7 linked regions of the Homo sapiens genome follow. The protein of the gene in region 7 purifies or fractionates together with the protein of the main gene of each other region. This does not show direct contact. Each region holds a gene or a part of one and is shown on either strand. Other genes may lie near its edges.

What was found.
Region 1: the proteins of SIRT6 (region 7) and G3BP1 purify together in Homo sapiens (affinity purification with mass spectrometry; 3 studies listed by BioGRID and IntAct, with this or other methods). This does not show direct contact.
Region 2: the proteins of SIRT6 (region 7) and CDC27 purify together in Homo sapiens (affinity purification with mass spectrometry; 2 studies listed by BioGRID, with this or other methods). This does not show direct contact.
Region 3: the proteins of SIRT6 (region 7) and PARP2 purify together in Homo sapiens (affinity purification with mass spectrometry; 2 studies listed by BioGRID and IntAct, with this or other methods). This does not show direct contact.
Region 4: the proteins of SIRT6 (region 7) and PARP1 purify together in Homo sapiens (affinity purification with western blotting; 2 studies listed by BioGRID, with this or other methods). This does not show direct contact.
Region 5: the proteins of SIRT6 (region 7) and GFPT1 purify together in Homo sapiens (affinity purification with mass spectrometry; 3 studies listed by BioGRID and IntAct, with this or other methods). This does not show direct contact.
Region 6: the proteins of SIRT6 (region 7) and USP48 purify together in Homo sapiens (affinity purification with mass spectrometry; 3 studies listed by BioGRID, with this or other methods). This does not show direct contact.

Annotation. Positions count from the first base shown.
Region 1 is NC_000005.10:151,809,954-151,813,285, forward strand, and holds the end of G3BP1 (ras GTPase-activating protein-binding protein 1), read left to right. Parts: 3' UTR 1-2,832; downstream 2,833-3,332. UniProt on the Homo sapiens protein: Protein involved in various processes, such as stress granule formation and innate immunity. Plays an essential role in stress granule formation.
Region 2 is NC_000017.11:47,151,296-47,154,795, reverse strand, and holds part of CDC27 (cell division cycle protein 27 homolog), read left to right. Parts: exon of another isoform or gene 1-9; coding exon 10-124; intron 125-2,859; coding exon of another isoform or gene 2,860-2,877; coding exon 2,878-2,990; intron 2,991-3,500. UniProt on the Homo sapiens protein: Component of the anaphase promoting complex/cyclosome (APC/C), a cell cycle-regulated E3 ubiquitin ligase that controls progression through mitosis and the G1 phase of the cell cycle.
Region 3 is NC_000014.9:20,346,635-20,350,134, forward strand, and holds part of PARP2 (poly [ADP-ribose] polymerase 2), read left to right. Parts: intron 1-228; coding exon 229-279; intron 280-3,500. UniProt on the Homo sapiens protein: Poly-ADP-ribosyltransferase that mediates poly-ADP-ribosylation of proteins and plays a key role in DNA repair.
Region 4 is NC_000001.11:226,360,191-226,363,093, reverse strand, and holds the end of PARP1 (poly [ADP-ribose] polymerase 1), read left to right. Parts: intron 1-1,010; coding exon 1,011-1,125; intron 1,126-1,552; coding exon 1,553-1,634; 3' UTR 1,635-2,403; downstream 2,404-2,903. UniProt on the Homo sapiens protein: Poly-ADP-ribosyltransferase that mediates poly-ADP-ribosylation of proteins and plays a key role in DNA repair.
Region 5 is NC_000002.12:69,324,728-69,328,227, reverse strand, and holds part of GFPT1 (glutamine--fructose-6-phosphate aminotransferase [isomerizing] 1), read left to right. Parts: intron 1-1,152; coding exon 1,153-1,314; intron 1,315-1,994; coding exon 1,995-2,039; 3' UTR 2,040-3,500.
Region 6 is NC_000001.11:21,752,150-21,755,649, reverse strand, and holds part of USP48 (ubiquitin carboxyl-terminal hydrolase 48), read left to right. Parts: intron 1-2,530; coding exon 2,531-2,658; intron 2,659-2,998; coding exon 2,999-3,123; intron 3,124-3,500.
Region 7 is NC_000019.10:4,176,587-4,179,563, reverse strand, and holds part of SIRT6 (NAD-dependent protein deacylase sirtuin-6), read left to right. Parts: intron 1-277; coding exon 278-460; intron 461-2,425; coding exon 2,426-2,485; intron 2,486-2,977. UniProt on the Homo sapiens protein: NAD-dependent protein deacetylase, deacylase and mono-ADP-ribosyltransferase that plays an essential role in DNA damage repair, telomere maintenance, metabolic homeostasis, inflammation, tumorigenesis and aging.

The sequences.
Region 1 (3,332 bases), on a different chromosome or scaffold from region 7:
GGTATCCTAATGTGTTAATAGCTGAAACTCAGCTGTAATTTCTCCTAAATACTTCAGCATTTTGCATTCTGTACATTGTGGTGCTTTTTCCACCTTGTATTGTTGTAACTGTAAGCTCCTAGGGGGCAGCAATTTGGTCTTAGGCGTGTACCCTGTTTAGTGCCTGGCAATGCCATGTTTATATCAAGGTCTTAATATTACTTTTGAGTTATTTCTCCCACTCTTCATGGAAGTGATGCTCCAGCCTTGCTAAAACACTGAGGGTCCTCCCGATAAGCCAGGCATTGTGATTCCTTGGCTTCAAGTGCCTTCTGTCTTCCCCGAAGGTCCACTGAGATCTACAATCCCCCCTTTCCTCTGATCTCTTGCCATGTAAGTAATTTTTTAAAAGATCAGTACAAGAGCTATATTTTTTCCTAAGAAAAAATTTCAACAGGAATGGGGAGTAGCCCCGTTTTGGGGCTGATCTGTCCAGAATTTGGAGTGAGGAACAAATCCATTCTCATCTACTTTCCACATTTTCCCTCTTGTTTGAGGTCCTGTTCCAACCTTCATTTCTGAAACTGTTCTAGAGCACTTTGTCTTTCTCGTAGTTCATAACTTACCCCTTCAGTCTAGAATTAGAATTACATTATCTGTTTTACTACTTTACTAGACTGTAAGCTCCTAGAAGATAAGGACTAGGGAGTTCATCTCTGTATTCCACCAGAAGGTACAGTGACTCATAACTAGAGTCTTTAGATGAAACTTACTGAGTTGAATAACTTAATATATTTCTGTTTTCATTCCCAAGGGAGGCCATGTCTGGAGATAGACCTTGAATTTAATAAATTTTAGGCACTATACCATTTCAGTGGAGAAAATTGTTGGGAAATTTGGGGGGATGGATATATAAGGGGGAGGAAGTCACTGGCCAGTTTGAGGTGCTTCCATTGGTCTGGGTAACTAGCCATTTCTTCCTGATTGTGCCTAGTATATCCCAGACAGTTTGTTTCTATGCAGAAGAATTTTATATGAAATTTTCATTTCTTTGCAAAAACTTGTTCCTTCTTTCAGTTCATGACATCATCCATGCTAAAGTCTGAGTCATCTGCTTCCATTTTTGTTATTCCCCACATCCAGTCTTCAGCTAAGTCCTGTCAGTTCTACCTCAAGTCTTTCCCGTCTTTCTTCCTCACCTATGTAATTTCAGTAGTCTCTCAGCTTCACTTAACCTCTTACTCCAGCCTACTTTATACACAATGTTAGATTCATCTTACTGAAACATAGTTCTGACCATGTATTCCATGTATGTGTTCTCTCTCCCCTATTAGACTGTAAGCTCCTTATGGGCAGGATCTGTGTCTGAGTCATCTTTGTATCTTGCCTAGCACCTATCAATAAATACTTCTTGAATGAACAAATGAATTCTCATTTCTCGACATAAAGCCTTGTCTAAAGTGAGATGTTTTCCAGGTCATACATAGGTTTCTCCCTGGGGTAATTGGAAGTTCTTGCATATAAAGTTGGTTAAATAGTAATAATTATGAGTTAACCACAGAAAATTTCAGAAAACTTTAATTTTTTTCCATTGGAATCAGCATGGATATGTGTATATGGATGGTTCAATAAATATACTTTTATATACATGTTTCACAGAAATTTTACATTCCATCTTCAAACTGCAGAAATAGATTTTTTTTTTTTACAAGCCAAAAAATAACTGCCATAACTTTTGTGACTTCATGCAAAAAAAGGGGGGAAGAGTAAGGGGCAAAAGGGAATTAGTTGTTCAAGGTTGAGTGTCCAGTAAGAAGTAAAAATGTTACATTAAGGAAGCGATTGCTTAACACGCTGCTTAAGGTGGTAGCCAGACAAATCCTTAACTGCAGCATTAAGGCCATACCAAGTTTATACATATATACAAAGAAATTTCCATATAAAAGACATACTATCACATTTTCTTCTTCATAAGGATGAGGAACTTTGTAATTCTGACCTGATTTTCCAGGCCAATTAATTAAAATGTCCCCAGGCTGCTTTTTAGAAGTATCTTCTACTTTGGCTAGCTGTCAGAGTTGCCGCTATGTGAGCTTGTGACTTCTGGTCTGGCGTGAAAGTATGAATCATCTTGAACCTCTTCCATCATAGCACTATGTTGCTGAGCTAATTCATGCTGCCCAGCTAAGCACATTTTCTACATCCCCAAAGTATTTGGAATCACAGCATTGTAACTTGTGATTGTCTTACCTGTAACAGACTCCACAGTCATGCTGGCATTGTGACCTGAAGAATTACACAGTGCCCTTCTTAGATTCTTTGGGGTTAAGGTAACTTCTTGAATAATGTACTAATGAACGATAGTGTTTCAGGAAACATGCCCTAGCTATTGGAAGTTCGTATCTAACTTTTACCCCTTGTGTGTCATGATACATTTAAGTTGGTAGCTACATTTTTGGAATAAAGGAAATGTAAAATTATTTGCAGAATAATAACCTGGGATTTGCTCTTCTGCCTAAACATCGAACTAGGGAACTTTAAAGACAAAGGGTGCATCTTTTGTGCAAGTATCTAAGCGGGCAAAATGGGGAAAACATGAAGGGCAAGTCCTTTGGGGATGACTTCTAATTAATGCAGAAGTCATTTGCTTTGGCCAGGTTGGGTGGGACTCTGAGATTGCACACTCTTGCCCTGTTGGCAGAAACTAGCCCATCTTAAGTTAGTCAATGAATCCTGAGTCAAAATGAAAGGTTGCTAAATCTAAGATCGAGTGTATAAATAAAATAACCCCTTCCTCCAGTGACTGTGCATTTATTTTGTAATAAACTCATTTTGGAATGTTTTAGCAATGAATTGGTATCTCTCTGTTGTCCTGTTCATCGCCAGTTTTCAAGTATGGCTCCAGTGTGTTCACAGCTATGGCTGCAAGGTAATTTGGTCTCTTTCTATAGCTTCCCTAGGCCAGTCAAGTTTGAGAATAAGGTCTCCGTAAGTGGCCTGTCCTGGGAGAGAGGACCAAGTGATTTGTGATTTGGAAGCACTGTGGTATGTTTGAACACTTGCCAAGTTAACAGTCACTGAGTATTCTAATCATGCACCAGCCACTCTTCACCCTAAATGTACTACAAGTTATTCATTGCAGTAACTTGCATCAATTCTAGATAAGGTGATTTTTATTCAACAGGTCTACTGTGATGCTGATCTAGACAATGAGAGTGGAATAGCCTTTGGCAGTCTTGGAATATCAAGAGGGCTTAAAAGTATTAGGTTTTTGTTTTGGTCATTTTGTGTTTCACTTTGTCCATTTCAAGTCCAAAGCAGTTGAAGACATGTTTTATCCAGTTTGTCAGATG
Region 2 (3,500 bases), on a different chromosome or scaffold from region 7:
TCTTCTCAGTTTTGGGATTTTGCCATTAGAAACCCCAAGTCCTGGAGATGGATCCTATTTACAAAACTACACTAATACACCTCCTGTAATTGATGTGCCATCCACCGGAGCCCCTTCAAAAAAGGTATTTTCCATGTAAAATGCAGTTTGGGAATTGATTAAAGCAACTTGTTTATTTCAATCTTTTAAAGGTAATCTCAGGGAAAATCTTACTTTATGTAATTGCTTTTGCCTTATATTTGAACCCAGCAGGTAGAGGGTGATCTAAATATAAAAGAATGTCATTATTGTTGTAGCCTCTTGGTTACAGTAGGAGACAGACTTCTTACTCTTTTGGCCAAGTAAGATTGTATCTCACAAATTTAGTTTATTTCAGCATATAGTTAAATAAACATAATCATATTTTTACTTTTTAATTTCCTTTTTAAAAAACAAAATTAATATTGTTTATATTACTTGACTATAAATAACAGAAATTATGTCTGCCATAGTTTTTACTTGTCCCTACCACTGTGTATATATGTTTTTTTAATAACACTAATAATTATATGAAAAAAAATTTGCTCAGGTAAAGCCAGATATTTCTGATAATAAGATTTTTGGTAGATCATGGATGTATAGTTTTAACATGAAAATGAAAAATATTTGGTAGTATACTTATAGTAAATATTGCGGCAAGTTTCATGAGGCTTTTTTTTTTTTTTTTTGAGACAGGGTCTCGCTCTCCTGCCCAGGCTGGAGTGCAGTGGTGTGACCATGACTCACTGTAGCCTCTACCTCCCAGGCTCAAGTGATCCTTCCACCTTAGCCTCCCAAGTACCTAGGACTATAGGTGTACACCACCACACCCAGCTAATTTTTTTAACTTTTATTTTTGTAGAGACAGGATCTCACTGTGTTGCCAGGGATGGTCTCAAACTCCTGGGCTCAAGCAATCCTCCTGCCTTGGCCTCTCAAAGTGCTAGGATTATAAACATGAGTCACTGCCCTGCTGAGGCTCTTGTTTTATAATGTTCCCTTTTATAGGTATATGGAAATAGAGGCCAAAATACCATTTTTAAAAAGCATATCTGTGGCACAAGGTAACTTCTGTGAGAATTAAATTAGGTTCTATATATAAAATACCTATTGCCATGCTTCATAAATATTCAAGAAATGGAAGCTAAACAAGTCATACTAATATGTGAATAACAGTTATACTCTCTTTACCTTAATAGAAACATGTTTCTTCTTATAGTTGTTTTTTTACTATTTTACTCCTGAACATCCTTAGAATCTGCAAAAGATTTTTCTATAATAACTCCTTAGTGAGTGATAATAGGAACTCCAAGAATACTTAAAAGGGACTGCAAAATAGTTTGTGTATGGATTGTTTTAAACATTACAGTTATGAAGAAGGCAAAACAAAATGGTAGTTAGCATGCCAGGTGAAGTAGGCCAAAACTAGAAGAGCCATAATAACCATAATAACCAGAGCAAGTTAAGACAGTGGGCAGGCACATGATTTTAGTGCCCAGATAAGATTGCTCTCTCATCCTCTTCTGCCTCTGTTCTCCTCTTACCTTATTACAAGACATTCCCAGAAAAGTCACGCATGTAGGTCTGCATGCAGTGTCAACTGAAAATATCAAACCAGGTATTGAGTGCAGTGTACATAGTTCTTTGATAAATAAGGAAAAGCCAGAGTTGACTTTTGTCCCTTGGATGAATGTAGTGATCCCAATTTGGAAAAGGCGGAGGAAGGCTTATGAAGTTTTATTTTGAAGTGGTGGTACATTAGATGAAAATATTCAGTAGAAAGTTAGTCATAGAGGAAAAAATGTGACCTGCTGATAGAAATAATAATTGAAACTATTAAAATGACCAGGCTCTCCTAGGGAAAGAAAGAGTAGCTAAGGAGAACAGAGTAAACCTAATTTAAAAATAGTAGAAGGATAAAGGGCCAGCAAATGAAGTGGCAGGACAAATAATGTAATGTTTTGGAAGTAACACAAAGTTTCAAAAAGTAGGGCATGATCAGTGATGTTGAATGCAGGAAAGGCTAAAATAAGGTTTTAATATCTGATGAGACAGTGATTATTAGTGATTATTTATAATATGCAGTTTGAGGATTGTGTACAGGACATCAGGGTAACAGTAAGTTTTGAAGAAAATTCTCTGGTAGCCAAAGGGGAAAAACAGTGCACTGATACAATAGTCATAGATCATTTAAAGAAGCTAGATGGTGGAAATGAATAGAAATAAGGGAATAAATTAGAGAAGACTGAAGAGCCAAGCAAAGATTTTTTTTTCTCCAAGGGAACAGAAACCAATTAATGAAGATTAGAAAAACTAAGCAATATTAACTCTAAAGAACAATATCCTTAGGTTTTGGAAAGTAATCAGATGGTTGTTTTTTTAAAATCTACTCCTCTGAACTCCTTTAGAACTGTTACCAAGTGCCAAAGGAGTATAAAATCTTATCGTATTATTATTTTTTTCTGTGTATAATGAGATAAATCATAAATCTTGAGAATTTAGCTGTCTTAAAATTTTTTAGTACTTAACCCCAAATAGAGAAGGTATGTAATAAATGGAGGATGGTCACAATGAGATGAAAAGAATAGCTTCTGGGGATTTTTAGTCTTTGAAACAAAAAGCGAAAGATGAAAAGACATTATAGAGGTAAAAATACTGTGAGATTAAAACAGGGAAATAGACTGATGTTCATACTAATACAACAATAATTAACAATATGATATAAATAGTTTATCTTTAAGGTGACAGTATATTATGGCTGCTTGTATTGAGAAAATGTAGATGGGAGCGTTGTGTTGTCTTTTATCATTTACAGTGCAGCCCATAATTCACAAACCTTAGACTTTTCGTGTTTTACAGTCTGTTGCCAGAATCGGCCAAACTGGAACAAAGTCTGTCTTCTCACAGAGTGGAAATAGCCGAGAGGTAACTCCAATTCTTGCACAAACACAAAGTTCTGGTCCACAAACAAGGTATTTATCATTGTAATTATTCAACTTTTCTTGGCATAAAACTTGATTCTTTACATTTCTTTAATTTAGGCAGATAGTGACTCTCGTGGATTCTAGAATAACTACTGTAAATTTTGAAGATGTAAAATTTGAAACCTCTAACTTACAACACTAATGTAATTTTGAGTTGAGTTTTGTAATGCACAGAAGACAATAGTTAACTAAAGCAGCATTTTAGTTTACTCTGATTGCCTCATGGATTTGTAATTTTCTTCTTATGCACATGACCCTTTCTATAGTTTAGGTACAGATAGGTTTCATACTCCCCTTCCCCACATTATGCATGTCTATAAACAGATTATAAAAATAACAGACAAATAAACTTCAAATAATGAATCTATTTCCACACAGAAATGGTGTTAGATAGGATTTTCTTTTCCTCTTCAAGGACTCAATAGATTATAGCTAACATTTTAAAAGGAAGATACAATTTTCTTTCTCCTTTCTAAAACTGTGAACATGTACCTAAAT
Region 3 (3,500 bases), on a different chromosome or scaffold from region 7:
AACTCAGAATCTTTTGTATAGTTAAAAAAAAGGAAGCATGTTTTCATTTATAGTAAGGTTACACCCAGGTTACTGGTAGAACATAGGTTTGCAATTCTTTCCTTGGGAGATGAATGTTGATGTTGCTGTAGAATGATGACTTGAGCCATAAGAAAATTTAGAGCCTCATTTAGGATGTCAGGGCTGAACCTATACTAATGTTGATTTTTTCTCTCTCTCCCTTTCTAGGCTCATGTGTATTGTGAAGGAAATGATGTCTATGATGTCATGCTAAATCAGGTAAGAGGCAAGAAGAGGTGGCACCATTATATTTATGAGACCATCTTCTTGATAATTATTGATGATAGCATCACAGTGTTCAGATCTTTAAAGTCCCTTTTTTTTTTTTTTTTAAATTTTGTTTTTTCTTTTTGAAATGGAGTCTCACTTCATCTCTCAGGCTGGAATACAGTGGCACAATCTCGGCTTACTGTAACCTCTGCCTCCCAGGTTCAAGCAATTCTCCTGCCTCAGCCTCCCAAGTAGCTGGGGTTACAGGCGTGCACCACCACTCCCAGCTAATTTTTTGTATTTTTAGTAGAGACAAGGTTTCGCCACGTTAGCCAGGGTCTGGTCTCGAACTCGTGACTTCAAGTGATCCACCCACCTCAGCCTCCCAAAATGCTGGGATTACCAGGTGTAAGCCACCACGCCTTGCCTAAAGTCCTTCATATGTGTGTGTGTATATATATATATATATATATATATATATATATATATATATATTTTTTTTTTTTTTTTTTTTTTTTTTTTTTTTTTTGAGACAGAGTCTTGCTCTGTCACCCAGGCTGGAATGCAGTGGTGCAATCTCGGCTCACTGCAATCTCTGCCTCCTGGGTTCAAGCAATTCTCCAGCCTCAGCCTCCCAAGTAGCTGGGACTACAGGTGCAGTGTCTGGCTAATTTTTTGGTATTTTTAGTAGAGATGGGGTTTCACCATGTTGGCCAGGCTGGTCTTGAACCCCTGACCTCAGGTGATCCACCCACCTCACCCTCCCAAAGTGTTGGTATTACAGGCATGAGCCACTGCGCCCGGCAAGTCCTTTATATTAATATTAGCCATTAGTGGTTAAACACCTGAGTACTCAGCCCTAGCACACTCTTATCAGATAGCAGAGTCCTCTGTGAGAAGATTTTTTTTTGCAAATTTCATATCATTTATTGAAATTGTTAACTCTCTGTTCATATCCTTTTGCACATTTTTTTTTTTTTTTTAAACAGACAGGATCTTGTTCTGTCACCCAGGCTGGAGTGCAGTTTGTACAGTCATAGCCCACTGCAACCTTGAACTTCTGGGCTCCAGCAATCCTCCCACCTAAGCTTCCTGAGTAGCTCGGACTTCAGGCGCATGCCACAAAGCCTGACTAATTTTTAAATTTTTTATGGAGATGAGAATCTCGCTATGTTGGATAGGTGGTCTTGAATTCTTGGCCTCAAATGATCCTCCTGCCTTGTCCTCATGAGGCACTGGGATTACAGGGATGAGCCACTGGGACAAGCTGTTTTGCACATTTTCTAAAGTTATTGGTCCTTTTCTTACTGGTTTCGAGGAACTTTATATAATATGGAGAATAGCCTTTTGTCTGTAATACAAACCACTTGTGTTTTCCAGATTTGTCATTTACCTTTTGGTTTTCCTTATAGTACACTTTTTGCCCATATTGAAGTTTTAAATTTTTTCTGTAGTTAAATTTATTAATTTTTCCTTTTTAAAAAATTTTGGGTTTTTTTTTTTTTAATTTTAGAGACAGTGTCTTGCTATGTTGCTCAGGCTGGCCTTGAACTTGTGACCTCGTGTGATCCTCCAACCTCAGCCTCCCAAGTAGCTGGGACTACAGGCATCTGCCCCCAAGCTCAGCTTTCTTTTTAATCAACCTTTTTCTCTTGTTTACCTTTGTGGTTTTGAGTAGATAATACATTTGCCTCATTAATATATTTCCTGGATATGACTTCATGTTTGAATTTATTGATCCAACATATATAATTTTAACAACCAATTAGTATTTATTTCTTACTATTTCTTCTACTTAAAATACCACGAGCAGATAGAAAATACCTTAAGGTTAGCCAGGTGCAGTGGCTCACGCCTGTAATCCCAGCACTTTGGGAGGCTGAGGCGGGCGGATCACCTGAGGTCGGGAGTTCAAGACCAGCCTGACCAATGTGGAGAAATCCCATCTCTACTAAAAATACAAAATTAGCCAGGTGTGGTGGCATATGACTGTAATCCCAGCTACTCGGGAGGTTGAGGCACGAGAATTGCTTGAACCTGGGAGACGGAGTTTGTGGTGAGCCGAGATCGTACCATTGTACTCCAGCCCTGGGCAACAAGAGCAAAACTCCTTCTCAAAAAAAAAAAGAAAAGAAGGAAAATACCTTAAGGCAGCCAGGTGTGGTGGCTCATGCCTGTCATCCTAGCACTTTCGGAGGCCAAGGCTGGAGAATCACTTCAGGTGTGAGTTCAAGATCAGCCTGGGCAACATGGTGAAACCTTGTCTCTACAAAAAAATACAAAAACACCGGGCATGGGCCAGCTACTTTGGAGGCTGAGGTGGGAGGATTGCTTGAGCCTGGGAGGTTGAGGCTACAGTGAGCTGTGATTGAGCCATTGCACTCCAGCCTGGGTGACAGAGGGAGACCCTATCTCAAAAAAATAAAAAATAAAAACCATAAAAACATTTACAAAAAAATTTTTTAAAGGAAAAGAAAATATCAAGCTGGGCATGGTGGCTTATGCCTAAAATCCCAGCACTTTGGGAGGCCAAGGCGGGCAGATCACTTGAGTTAGGGGTTCAAGACCAGCCTTGCCAACATGTTGAAACTCCATGTCTACTAAAAATACAAAAAAAAATTAGTCTGGCATGGTGGCGTGTGCCTGTAATCCCAGCTACTAGGGAGGCTGAGGCACAAGAAATTGCTTGAACCTAGGACACAGAGGTGGCAATGAGCGGAGGTTGCACCACTGCACTCCAGCCTGGGCGACAGAGCAAGACTCTGTCTCAAAAAAAGAAAATATCTTAGGCTCCTTTTTGTTCTAACATCTAATGACCTTTTTTTTTTCACCAGTGGGCTAAGGTCGTACAATGGCTTTAGAATGTGAGCAAGCAGGAGATAGAGGTAGGAAGGGGCAGCATGCTTAACAAAAAAGAATGCCTCCATATCCAGGGCTCGGCCATACAACACCAGCTGCTATGCCTTATCATGGACTTCTCTCTCTTCACTCTGAGTGATTTACTTACAGATACCTCTTTTTAGATACTGGCCATATTCTCTCTCAGTATCTCCAAGTCAGGTCAGGTTAGGTATGGGACGGATGTGGCAGTGGTTTTGCGTATCCCTTGTCCCCTCCCATTATTGCCCTGCTCTCAGCTCATTGTCAAATTTCTGCAGCTGACAAACAAAAGCTGTGAGTAGAACTGTCAAGGAGTAAGTCATTTAACAGTTGAGCATAACAGGTTTAGA
Region 4 (2,903 bases), on a different chromosome or scaffold from region 7:
GTGTTTCCAAAGCTGTTGCTACAGCCCGAGGCACCCTGGACAGCACAGAAGCCGGGGGCTTGCTGTCCTGAGAAGGCTGCCTTGTGGCTGGCTGTCAAACAGCTGGAGATTCATTTTATCTTTTCGAGGGGTGTGTGTGCGTTGTTGTTGTTGTTTGGGGGGTGGTGGTGGTGGTTAATATGCTGCAACTGACCATGATTGGAGGTTCATTTTATTTATTTTTGTAAAAAAAAAAAAAAAATAGGCAAGCTCTATAGCAGGAGGTTCATTTTTAAAAACAGTTCACTCTCTGTGGCTGCAGCTGGTATCACAGATGCCACAGGAGAATCTTGGTGCAGGCACCAGTAACCAGATGCACGGGTTTCGGCTTTAACCTAACTTGTAGCTACAGCAGTGAGGGACCTCTCGTGACATAGTAGTGCCTGGAGCATCTTGGATTGCTAGAATTTGCAGCATATGATTTAGAACCTTCCACTGCCTGGTTGAAGTGGCCGCTTTGAAATTCTATTGAGCCGAAATGTGATCCTGTAGGGAGGGTACTGCCACTGTTCTCATTAAACTCAGTGAAGGTTGATGCCCTGGGAACTTTGGTTTATTGCCTTAGTTTTATATCTGAAGAAAGATAGAGCATGTCTTTAAAATGAGCACATGAGGCTGGGTGTGGTGGATCACCTGAGGTCAGGAGTTCGAGACCATCCTGGCCAACATGGTGAAACCCTGTCTCTACTAAAATACAGAAAATTAGCTGGGTGTGGTGGCGCGCACCTGTAATCCCAGCTACTCAGGAGGCTGAGGCACGAGAATTGCTTGAATCCGGGAGGCGGAGGTTGCACTGAGCTGAAGTCACACCATTGCACTCCGGCCTGGGCGACAGTGAGACTCCATCTCAAAAAGGAAAAAAAAAAAAAAGAAAGACCACATGGACCCAACATCAAATAGAGCTCATCTCCCTGGAAGCTTTGCCACATCTGTACTCACAGTTCATGTCACTTGTGACTTCTGTTTTTCAGGTTTGGGCAAAACTACCCCTGATCCTTCAGCTAACATTAGTCTGGATGGTGTAGACGTTCCTCTTGGGACCGGGATTTCATCTGGTGTGAATGACACCTCTCTACTATATAACGAGTATCCTTTCTTGAGTATGCTGTGTGAGCACAAAGGGATGTTCTCGAGCTACAGAGTCACTTATGTGCTGTCAGATTACCTGGGGCAGACAAGGATTAGAGGCTGTCCTGTAGTGTGTCCCATGGTGACTGTTTCCCTTCTGTGGTCCCTCCCTGTGCATAGCCTGGCTTACAGGGTATGAGCCTTCCCCCAGTTTCCAGAGGATGATCTCCTCTCCTCAGTCTGCCTGAAGAAGACTTAGAGTAACTTTCAGGCTGGCATTGAGCATCCTGCCAGCCCCGGGGAGATGAGGCAACCCAGCCCCATGAAGAGGCCTTAGAGTGACTTTCAGGCTGGCACTGAGCGTCCTGCCAGCCTGGGGGAGATGAGGCACATGTACATACCCTCTGTTGTATGGCTGTTGGCTCCTTAACAAGCTTCCCCTCAGGTACATTGTCTATGATATTGCTCAGGTAAATCTGAAGTATCTGCTGAAACTGAAATTCAATTTTAAGACCTCCCTGTGGTAATTGGGAGAGGTAGCCGAGTCACACCCGGTGGCTCTGGTATGAATTCACCCGAAGCGCTTCTGCACCAACTCACCTGGCCGCTAAGTTGCTGATGGGTAGTACCTGTACTAAACCACCTCAGAAAGGATTTTACAGAAACGTGTTAAAGGTTTTCTCTAACTTCTCAAGTCCCTTGTTTTGTGTTGTGTCTGTGGGGAGGGGTTGTTTTGGGGTTGTTTTTGTTTTTTCTTGCCAGGTAGATAAAACTGACATAGAGAAAAGGCTGGAGAGAGATTCTGTTGCATAGACTAGTCCTATGGAAAAAACCAAGCTTCGTTAGAATGTCTGCCTTACTGGTTTCCCCAGGGAAGGAAAAATACACTTCCACCCTTTTTTCTAAGTGTTCGTCTTTAGTTTTGATTTTGGAAAGATGTTAAGCATTTATTTTTAGTTAAAAATAAAAACTAATTTCATACTATTTAGATTTTCTTTTTTATCTTGCACTTATTGTCCCCTTTTTAGTTTTTTTTGTTTGCCTCTTGTGGTGAGGGGTGTGGGAAGACCAAAGGAAGGAACGCTAACAATTTCTCATACTTAGAAACAAAAAGAGCTTTCCTTCTCCAGGAATACTGAACATGGGAGCTCTTGAAATATGTAGTATTAAAAGTTGCATTTGAAATTCTTGACTTTCTTATGGGCACTTTTGTCTTCCAAATTAAAACTCTACCACAAATATACTTACCCAAGGGCTAATAGTAATACTCGATTAAAAATGCAGATGCCTTCTCTATTTGTGTATTGCGTGTCTGGTCTCATTCTGACTACAGATATGGTTAATCTTCACAGTGCAAGGTCCCAAGAGACTTTGGGGGGATTGTTTCTACCCTTAATCTGTGAAACCCCAGAACGTGCCAGGCAGCAAATAGCATTGCTTAATGGGAATGCCCCACCTAAGGGTGGGCCAAGCACCAGGCATAGGAGACACTTTTTTTTTTTTTCGGCTTATCAGATGCATTGTGGTGATGAACTCATCCTGCTCTCTGGAGGACTGCCTTTCATACACCACATTGCCTTGTACAACTGCTCTGCATTTGAGAATCATACTTAAATGTTTACGTTTCAATTGCCTGAAAGCAGGGCCAGTGTCTTATGTCACCTCTGACCTTTTACGGAAGGGGACAAGTGAGGTAGTAGCTCACACCTGTAATCCCAGTGCTTTGGGAGGCCGAGGTGGGAGGATCATTTGAGGCCAGGAGTTCAAGACCAGCACCTTTGACCTGGAGACCCTCT
Region 5 (3,500 bases), on a different chromosome or scaffold from region 7:
GAGTTACGCTAGCTTATTTGAATGACTTACAAAACATGTTTACACGTGTTAACTCATTTACTTTGGAATACAGCCTTTGAGGTTTACATGTGAGGAATCAGATACTTAAGAGTTTTTTTTTTTTTTTTTTTTTGAGATGGAGTCTCTGTCACCCACCCTGGAGTGCAGTGGCACAATCTTGGCTCACTGCAACCTCTGCCTCCTGGGTTCAGGCAATTTTCCTGCCTCAGCCTCCCAAGTAGCTGGGATTACAGGCACACTCCACCACGCCTGGCTAATTTTGTATTTTTGGTAGAGATGGGGTTTCATGTTGGCCAGGCTGGTGTCGAACTCCTGACCTGAAGTGATCCACCTGCCTCAACCCCCCAAAGTTCTGGGATTACAGGCATGAGCCACCCCGCCTGGCCCAGATACTTAGAGCTTTAAGAAGACCAAGGTCATAGATCTCATATTGGGCAGAACCAAGACCAGAACTGAGGTCTTGGTCTCCACATCCTGTCTTCTTTTAGTTAACATATGCTGTTCCTTTTTAATTTAATACTTCTAAAACATTTAAAAATGTATTTTAAAATATTTTTAAATATATATTTCAGCTGGTTGCAGTGGCACATGACTGTAGTCCCAGCTACTCTGGGGACTGAGGCAGGAGGATCACTTGAGTCCAGGAGTTTGAATACAGCCTGGGTAGCATAGTGAGACCCTGTCTCTAAAACAGTAAATAAAATAAATTAAAAAAAATTACACACACGCGATATATTTCAGGGGAAATCTAACATCTAGGTTTTATTTTAATATTATATAATTGAGTTTTCTTCAGATCAGTTGGCTTTATATATAAATTCCAAAAGATATTATTCCCTAAGCACAATGTGGTGGTAATGAACTTGAGCTTTGAAGTTAGGCAAACCTGCAGTCAAGTACTAAGCCTGGTATTTCTTAGTTGCATGAGTTTAAACAAATTACTGGATCCCATAACGCTTCTGTTTCCTCGACTATAAGTAATAACAATCAGATTTACTACACAGGAATTTAAAGAAGTCTGTCCGTGAGGCTTCATATGGATTATGCAGTGCAATTTTTGCACATTCGTAAGCTATAGCCCTGCCTTTGCCCACCAGTGATGTTGTGTATGTGTGTGATTTTCTTTCCTAGGGGCGGCCTGTGGTAATTTGTGATAAGGAGGATACTGAGACCATTAAGAACACAAAAAGAACGATCAAGGTGCCCCACTCAGTGGACTGCTTGCAGGGCATTCTCAGCGTGATCCCTTTACAGTTGCTGGCTTTCCACCTTGCTGTGCTGAGAGGCTATGATGTAAGTCATCTACCACTGCAGAAATCTTGGGATGGTTTTTTACCTGGATACATTCTGATTTTTTTCTCCTAAATTTTTAACAATAGTGTTTGAGAAATCTATCAAATATATATCTGTCACCTGTTATATTTTCATGGCCCAATTTGTAGGTTACATCACAACATCTTCTTACCCATAGAACTTGAAGGAACCTTGGGGTTCACCTCCAAGATTGTGACTCACCTTGGGTAGTCTCCACCTGTTTTCTTAATATAACCTCTATCTCTTAACAGGGCAGCTATTGGCATTTGGCAGGACAATTCTTTTTTGTTTGGAACTGTCCCACACATTGAAGACTTTGTAGCATTCCTGGTTTCTCAGCCATTGTGGCAACCAAAACATAGTGCTTTTGTTTTTAGTGTCCCCTATGAGGGCTACTACTTCTGTAGAGGACCACAGTAGCTCTTTCTGTGTGAACTGGCACCTTTAGAATGCTTTTTCCTAACCAATTTCAGTTTTTTTCAGGACACATTATGTGATTATATTTTCTAATCTAATTCTTTGTAGTCTGTAATAAAGATGGTTAATGAATGTATTGTTTTCTGTTTTTATAAACAAAAATAATTTGCTTATAGTAACCACCCCCTTCCCCAGTCTATATAATCTCTCAAATCTTGCTTTTTTTTTTTTTCTTTTTGCAGGTTGATTTCCCACGGAATCTTGCCAAATCTGTGACTGTAGAGTGAGGAATATCTATACAAAATGTACGAAACTGTATGATTAAGCAACACAAGACACCTTTTGTATTTAAAACCTTGATTTAAAATATCACCCCTTGAAGCCTTTTTTTAGTAAATCCTTATTTATATATCAGTTATAATTATTCCACTCAATATGTGATTTTTGTGAAGTTACCTCTTACATTTTCCCAGTAATTTGTGGAGGACTTTGAATAATGGAATCTATATTGGAATCTGTATCAGAAAGATTCTAGCTATTATTTTCTTTAAAGAATGCTGGGTGTTGCATTTCTGGACCCTCCACTTCAATCTGAGAAGACAATATGTTTCTAAAAATTGGTACTTGTTTCACCATACTTCATTCAGACCAGTGAAAGAGTAGTGCATTTAATTGGAGTATCTAAAGCCAGTGGCAGTGTATGCTCATACTTGGACAGTTAGGGAAGGGTTTGCCAAGTTTTAAGAGAAGATGTGATTTATTTTGAAATTTGTTTCTGTTTTGTTTTTAAATCAAACTGTAAAACTTAAAACTGAAAAATTTTATTGGTAGGATTTATATCTAAGTTTGGTTAGCCTTAGTTTCTCAGACTTGTTGTCTATTATCTGTAGGTGGAAGAAATTTAGGAAGCGAAATATTACAGTAGTGCATTGGTGGGTCTCAATCCTTAACATATTTGCACAATTTTATAGCACAAACTTTAAATTCAAGCTGCTTTGGACAACTGACAATATGATTTTAAATTTGAAGATGGGATGTGTACATGTTGGGTATCCTACTACTTTGTGTTTTCATCTCCTAAAAGTGGTTTTTATTTCCTTGTATCTGTAGTCTTTTATTTTTTAAATGACTGCTGAATGACATATTTTATCTTGTTCTTTAAAATCACAACACAGAGCTGCTATTAAATTAATATTGATATATTCAGTATTCTCTTCAACTTTGTCACGAGGAAGAATTTCCTGTAGTTAATTTTAACTTTCCTTCATTACATTGTTGCATAAAACTAGTCCCTTAGTGCCAGTTTGGAAGTTACTTGCAATTGTTTGGAAGATTTGCAGGTCGCTGACCTCATCATTTCACTCTAAGTATATGTGGTAGGCTAAGCTCAGAAAAAGGTATGTATGCTTTACACTGATAGGCACCAAATTTAGTATTGTATCCTAAGTATTTTTCCTCTTCTGTATTTTCTGTGCTCTACCCCTGAAATATATTTAGGAATAAAGAAGATATAAATAAAGTGATATTGGGGTATGTTCAGCTTGTAAGTGTCAGAAATGGAAGTTGACAATTTGGATTAAAATATTTAAAGTAGAATGTTATTATTTGATACCCCCAAAATTGTGAGTAATAATTTCTTAATGGAGCTTTTCTGGCCAGATCTTCAGGGCTATAGGAGAGTGTGTTTGTTTTTGGTGAAGTCCTTCTTTTTCAAAGGTTTTTACTTTTAAATTGTGAAGATAAGCTAT
Region 6 (3,500 bases), on a different chromosome or scaffold from region 7:
GGTAGTAAGGATACAAATATTCAGAGTCTGATTAGAAGACAGAAGCTACACAATAATTTGAACAGAAAAGGTTTTTTTTTATTGTTTGTTTGTTTTTTGAGACAAGATCTCACTTTTTCGCCCAGGCTGGTGCGAGCACAGCTCACTGTAGCCTCAACCTCCCAGGCTCAAGCAATCCTCCTGCCAGAGCCCCCCCGAGTAGTTGGAACTACAGGCATGCACCACCACCTCTTGCTAATTTTTGTGTTTTTTTTGGAGACAGCATTTTACCATGTTGCCCAGGCTGGTCTCAAACTCCTGGGTTCAATCGATCCACCTTCCTTGGTCTCCCAGAGTGCTGGGATTACAGGCATGAGCCACAGCACCTGGCCTTGAATAGCTTTTACTGGCCTGCAATGCTTTTGCAGGCCAAGGAGTAATATTTTATCTTTATTTTGAAGATGATATATTGACTTGCTGAAAGCCACAGTTGGTAGTAAGGAGATAAATATAGTCCAGTTAGAAGACAGAAGCTACAGAATAATTTGAAAAGGGAAAGTTGAGAATTAATAACAGAATTAATTAGAGAAATGAGGAATTGATTAATAAGAGTTAAAGATTAAAGAGGATTTTAAAGAATACAAGGACAGCAGATACAGGGAACAACCTGTATCCCTGGGGCTGAAAGAGAACATCCAACGGATAGTCTGTCACCCCCATGGCCCAGGCTTGAGATCCAGACCTCTTTGGACACTGCTGGGATGCACTGGGTGGCTGAAAAGGTGCTGAGATGCCTCCCTGGGAATCCCTACTAGAAACTGTCCATGAGAAGGTGCTGGGCCCTGGAACCCCCTACAGAGTCACCTGAGAGAGTGTCCGGGAGGCCATTCACAGGGTGGTCATTCGAGAGGAAATGCCTCACTGGAGGCACTGTACTGTGAAGCTATCAGAAGAGGTGCTGGGTAAGCTGCTGACTACTGTTAGGGGCAGGAACCTGGAGCCCTGGAGGAAGCTGATCTGCAGCAGGCTGGTGACAGAGGCACAACCAAACCCTGCAGTGCCCTTCACTGAGAAGCCTTACCTTCTTGATAACTGGCAAAGGAGAAGTATTTGCAGAGCCCATCTCTCATCACTGAGCAGGCAAAGAAGGGTAGATTTGGAGCTGAGAAGCAATAAGTTAATAACTTAAAGAAGATAAGACTTCTGTCTTCTGGGCTCTCAATATCCATGCTTTCTGCTTCCATTCCCTGCACTAGCTCATTAAAACTTTCAACTCTAAAATTCTACGGTTTTGTATTCTTCACTTAAGTGTGAATTGCTGTGCTTGAGATCCCAAGTCCACATTAACTGGACTTTAAAAAATCATGACTAGACACTGTAGTCATGATTGCTGTTGTTGCTTTAATACAGGTAGGCTCTTGCCTTTGGGGAGTGTATATGGACAGTCCTGGCTGCCTCATGACTTCCACAAAACATGGTTGCTAATTCTATTTCTTTTTTTTTTTCCTCCCAGATGGAGTCTCACTCTGTTGCCCAGGCTGGAGTGCAGTGGCACAATCTTGGCTAACTACAACCTCCGCCTGTCGGGTTCAAGTGATTCTCCTGCCTCAGCCTCCCGAGTAGCTGGGATTACAGGCGTGTACTACCATGCCCCACTAATTTTTGTATTTTTAATAGAGACGGGGTTTCGCCATGTTGGCCAGGCTGGTCTGGAACTCCCGACCTTGTGATCCGCCAGCCATGGCCTCCCAAAGTGCTGGGATTACAGGCGTGAACCACTGCTTCCAGCCTTGAGCCACTGCGCCAGCCCTGTCTTTTAAAGTTTTTTTTTTTTTTTTTTTTTTTTTAAAGAGTCTCGCTCTGTCATCCAGGCTGGAGTGCAGTGGCATGATCTCTGCTCACCACAACCTCCACCTCCTGGGTTCAAGCTATCCTTGAACCCCAGCCTCCCAAGTAGCAGGGATTACAGGTGCTCGCCACCACACCCAGCTACTTTTTGTATTTTTAGTAGAGACAGGGTTTTACCATGTTGGCCAGGCTGGTCTTGAACTCCTGACCTCAGATTATTCGCCCGCCTCTGCCTCCCAAAGTGCGGGGATTACGAGTGTGAGCCACCGTGCCCAGCCTTGTTTTTTGTTTTTGAGAGTCTCACTTTGTTGGCGATCTCACCTCACTGCAGCCTCTTCCTCCCGCGCTCAATAGATGCTCGTGTCTCAGCCTCCCAAGTAGCTGGGATTACATGTGTGCACCACCACACCCGGCTAATATTTGTATTTTTTTTAGTGGAGACGGGGTTTCTCCATATTGGCCAGGCTTGTCTCAAGCTTCTGATCTCAAGTGATCTGCCTGCTTTGGCCTCCCAAAGTGCTGGGGTTACAGGCATGAGCCACCGTGCTCAGCCTATTTCTTTTAAAGTTTTAAAATGATAATAAAGTATTAATCTAGTTTGGATGTAGAGATGTTTATGTTCTCATGTGAAGAGGAAGTACCATTTTTTGGAAAGAAAAGTAGCACCTTAAAAAACCCCAAATCTATATTTTTGTTTTAATAGATTATGAGCCTCAAACAATTTGTGAGCATCTCCAGTACTTGTTTGCCTTGTTGCAAAACAGTAATAGGCGATACATTGATCCATCAGGATTTGTTAAAGCCTTGGGCCTGGACACTGGACAACAGCAGGTAAGAACTGAATTTTTTTTTTTTTTTAAATATTCAGAGGTACCCAAACATCCTAAGCATGTTTATAAAGGGAGATGAAGTAGAATGCTTTTTAAAAATTAAATTTTTTCTATTTTGAATGAAAACCTTTATTTACTGTCCAATAGTTTACACATTATACTTGATTCCATTTATGGAAATTCATATGGGGGCACAAACTGATTGAACATAGCTGTAGCCCCTGTTTGAAAATGCTAAGTTGAAAGTATAGGTAGTTTCTGGAATGTTGAATGTATTACTATTTGTAGTAGAAGTTGAAAAGCAAGATATGATTTTTCTTTTCATTAACCTAAACTTGTAGGATGCTCAAGAATTTTCAAAGCTCTTTATGTCTCTATTGGAAGATACTTTGTCTAAACAAAAGAATCCAGATGTGCGCAATATTGTTCAACAGCAGTTCTGTGGAGAATATGCCTATGTAACTGTGTAAGTCTGTTTCAACTTTTTCATGGTACATTTTATTCTAAGACAGTTGCTCATATGTTAACTATTTTTCAGTGCAGTTCCAGGTTGTAGCTTTAGTGGTTTATCATGGGACCTGAAATATTTATAGTAATACATTTCCATGGGAACATATAAACAAGTGAGTTGGTAATTGCAGTTGCACCCATCCAGGTGTTAGGAACGGTGTCTGGGTGAGCTCTTGCAGTCTGCTCTTGCTTTATGGCTGTGTGGTGTGAGCTAAAGAGTAAGATTGGAACTGGCTAGAATACTAAAAGTAAATGTAAAATGCCTGTTAAAAAAATGTGCATGAGTACAATATACAACATTTGGGTGATGGTTACATTAAAACCTAGACTTCA
Region 7 (2,977 bases):
TGCCTCTCCCTCTCTCTGTCTCTCTCCAATTCTGTCTCTGACTTGCTTTGTCTTTAACTCTTTATCTCTCTGTCTGTGTCTTGTTCTATCCCCCTCTCCCTGTTCTTGCAACTCACCCTCTATTTCTGTTTCTGATTCCCTCTCTCTGTCTCCCTGTCTCTCTCTGTCTCCTGATTTTCTCTCTCTCCAACTTTCTCTCTATACCTCTCTGATTCTCCCTCTGTCTCTTTTTCTGTTCCCCTCTCCCCGTCCATCTCTCCCGGCCTGCCACCTTCAGGGGTCCCCACGGAGTCTGGACCATGGAGGAGCGAGGTCTGGCCCCCAAGTTCGACACCACCTTTGAGAGCGCGCGGCCCACGCAGACCCACATGGCGCTGGTGCAGCTGGAGCGCGTGGGCCTCCTCCGCTTCCTGGTCAGCCAGAACGTGGACGGGCTCCATGTGCGCTCAGGCTTCCCCAGGTAACACCCTGGCCCCGCCCCCACAAAAGAGCTTGGGGCCCCACAAACCGTGTTTGCATTTTTAGGGGGAGAGTCCCCTTTTCCTGGTTCTATAAGATTCTAGCCCTGAGTTCTTGGCCCAGTGTGTGGAGATCTCTGAGTCCCATGGCTCAGAGCTGTCCCGGCTGAGGCCAGAGGCAGAATTTCCCTCGAGATGGGGCTAAGGGGAGGAGAGCTGTCAGGGTCTAGAAGTTGCAGTTTGTTTTTTGTTGTTGTTGTTGTTTTTGAGACCGAGTTTCGTTCTTGTTGCCCAGGCTGGAGTGCAATGGCGTGATCTCCGCTCAGCCTCCCAGGTTCAAGCGATTCTCCTGCCTCAGCCTCCCTAGTAACTGGGATTACAGGCATGCGCCATCACACCCAGCTAATTTTGTATTTTTAGTAGAGACGGGGTTTCTCCATGTTGGCCAGGCTGGTCTTGAACTCCTGACCTCAGGTGATCTGCCCGCCTCAGCCTCCCAAAGTGCTGGGGTTACAGGTGTGAGCCACCACGCTTGGCCTGTTGTGTTTTTAATATCCATCTTTATTAATCTGACACTAAACGTGTCTGACACTGAAGTGAACCTGTGCTCTGGGGCAGGCTGATTTCCCAATAAAAGTGTGGCCCTCCCCTGCCCCTCTTTGCCAGGTCTCACCCCTGGGGCAACCAATGACAGCCAGGTCAGTTGTTGAGACGAGGAGCTCGGCAGCCAGGGGTGAGGGGTGAGGAAGAGATTTTTCTCTGCTTATAAAAGCAAACGAGGGGCCGGGCATGGTGGCTCACATCTGTAATCCCAGCACTTTGGGAGGCCGAGGCAGGCGGATCACGAGGTCAAGAGTTCGAGACCAGCCTGGCCAACATGTTGAAACCCCATCTCTACTAAGAGTACAAAAATTAGCTGGGCGTGGTGGCGCATGCCTGTAATCCCAGCTACTCGGGAGGCTGAGTCAGGAGAATCGCTTGAACCCGGGAGGCAGAGGTTGCAGTGAGCCGAGATGGCGCCACTGCACTCCAGCTTGGGTGACAGAGCAAGACTCTGTCTTGAAAAAAAAAAAAGCAAAGGAGGGTCAGGTGTGGTGACTTATGCCTGGAATCTCAGCACTTTGGGAGGCCAAGGCGGGCGGATCATGAGGTCAGGAGATCGAGACCATCCCGGCCACATGGTAAAACCCCGTCTCTACTAAAAACAGAAAAATTAGGCTGGGTACAGTGGCTCACGCCTGTAATCCCGGCACTTTGGGAGGCCGAGGCGGGTGGATCACAAGCTCAGGAGATCGAGACCATCCTGGCTAACACGGTGAAACCCTGTCTCTACTAAAAATACAAAAAATTAGCCCGGCGTGGTGGCGGGCGCCTGTAGTCCCAGCTACTCAGGAGGCTGAGGCAGGAGAATCACTTGAACCCCGGAGGCAGAGGTTGTGGTGAGCTGAGATTGTGCCATTGAGGTTGTGGTGAGCTGAGATTGCACCATTGCACTCCAACCTGGGCAACAAGAGCAAAACTCTGTCTCAAAATAAATAAATAAATAAAATAAAGCTGGGATTGGATCTCATGCTTCAGGGCCATTCAATGTCTCGGTTTCTTCCATTATAAACTGGGAATTTGAATTCCTGTGCTTCTGACCTGGTGACATCAAGAGGTTCCCATATGCTCTCGGAGGGGGACGGGCATTTTGTGAGTGGAAAGGGCTTCCCGTTATCTAAGGTGGGTTCAGCCTTGGGGGTTAATGATTCCTTGGGCTCAGAGAGGTTGGTCCACTTGCCCAGAGATGCACAGCAGATGAATGGTGGAGCCAGGAGCTAGAAGAGCCAGAAAGAAGGAGTTGATCAATGTTGTGGGAGAGGAGTCCGGGAAGCCTTCCTGGAGGAGAGGGGCTTAGCACCAGCTCCAAAGCCTGGGCATCCAGGGATCCTTTCCCACCATCAAGCCTCTTCCTGCTCTTCCCACAGGGACAAACTGGCAGAGCTCCACGGGAACATGTTTGTGGAAGAATGTGCCAAGTGTAAGACGTGAGTGCCACCTGGGTGCAGGGGTGGGGGCTCTGCCAGAGGGGGTTGGGGGTCGAATCCGATGTCCCAGAGACCCAGAGGGTATGGGGGGACTGGGGTGTGGCCCTCCTGGGGGGATCTGGGGGCGTGTCTCCCTCTTGGGGGGATATAAGGAGTATGTCTCCCTCCTGGAGGGATTTGGGGGGCATGTCTTCCTCCTGGAGGGATTTGGGGGGGCCGTGCCTCCCTCCTGTGGGGGGTACATCCGTGTCCTGGCACTGCTGTAGCAACCTGCCACAGATGAGCAGCGTAGAACAATAGAAATTTGTGATCTCACAGTTCTGGGGACCAGAAGTCCAAAATCCAGGTGTCTGCAGGGCCATGCCCCTCTGCAACCTGTAGGGGAGGATTTTTCCTGCCTTTTCCTGGCTGCTGGTGGCAGCCAGCCACCCTTGGTGGTCCTGGACCTACAGCCACAGGGGCCTTCTTATCTCTGTGTTTCTCCTTTTTTTT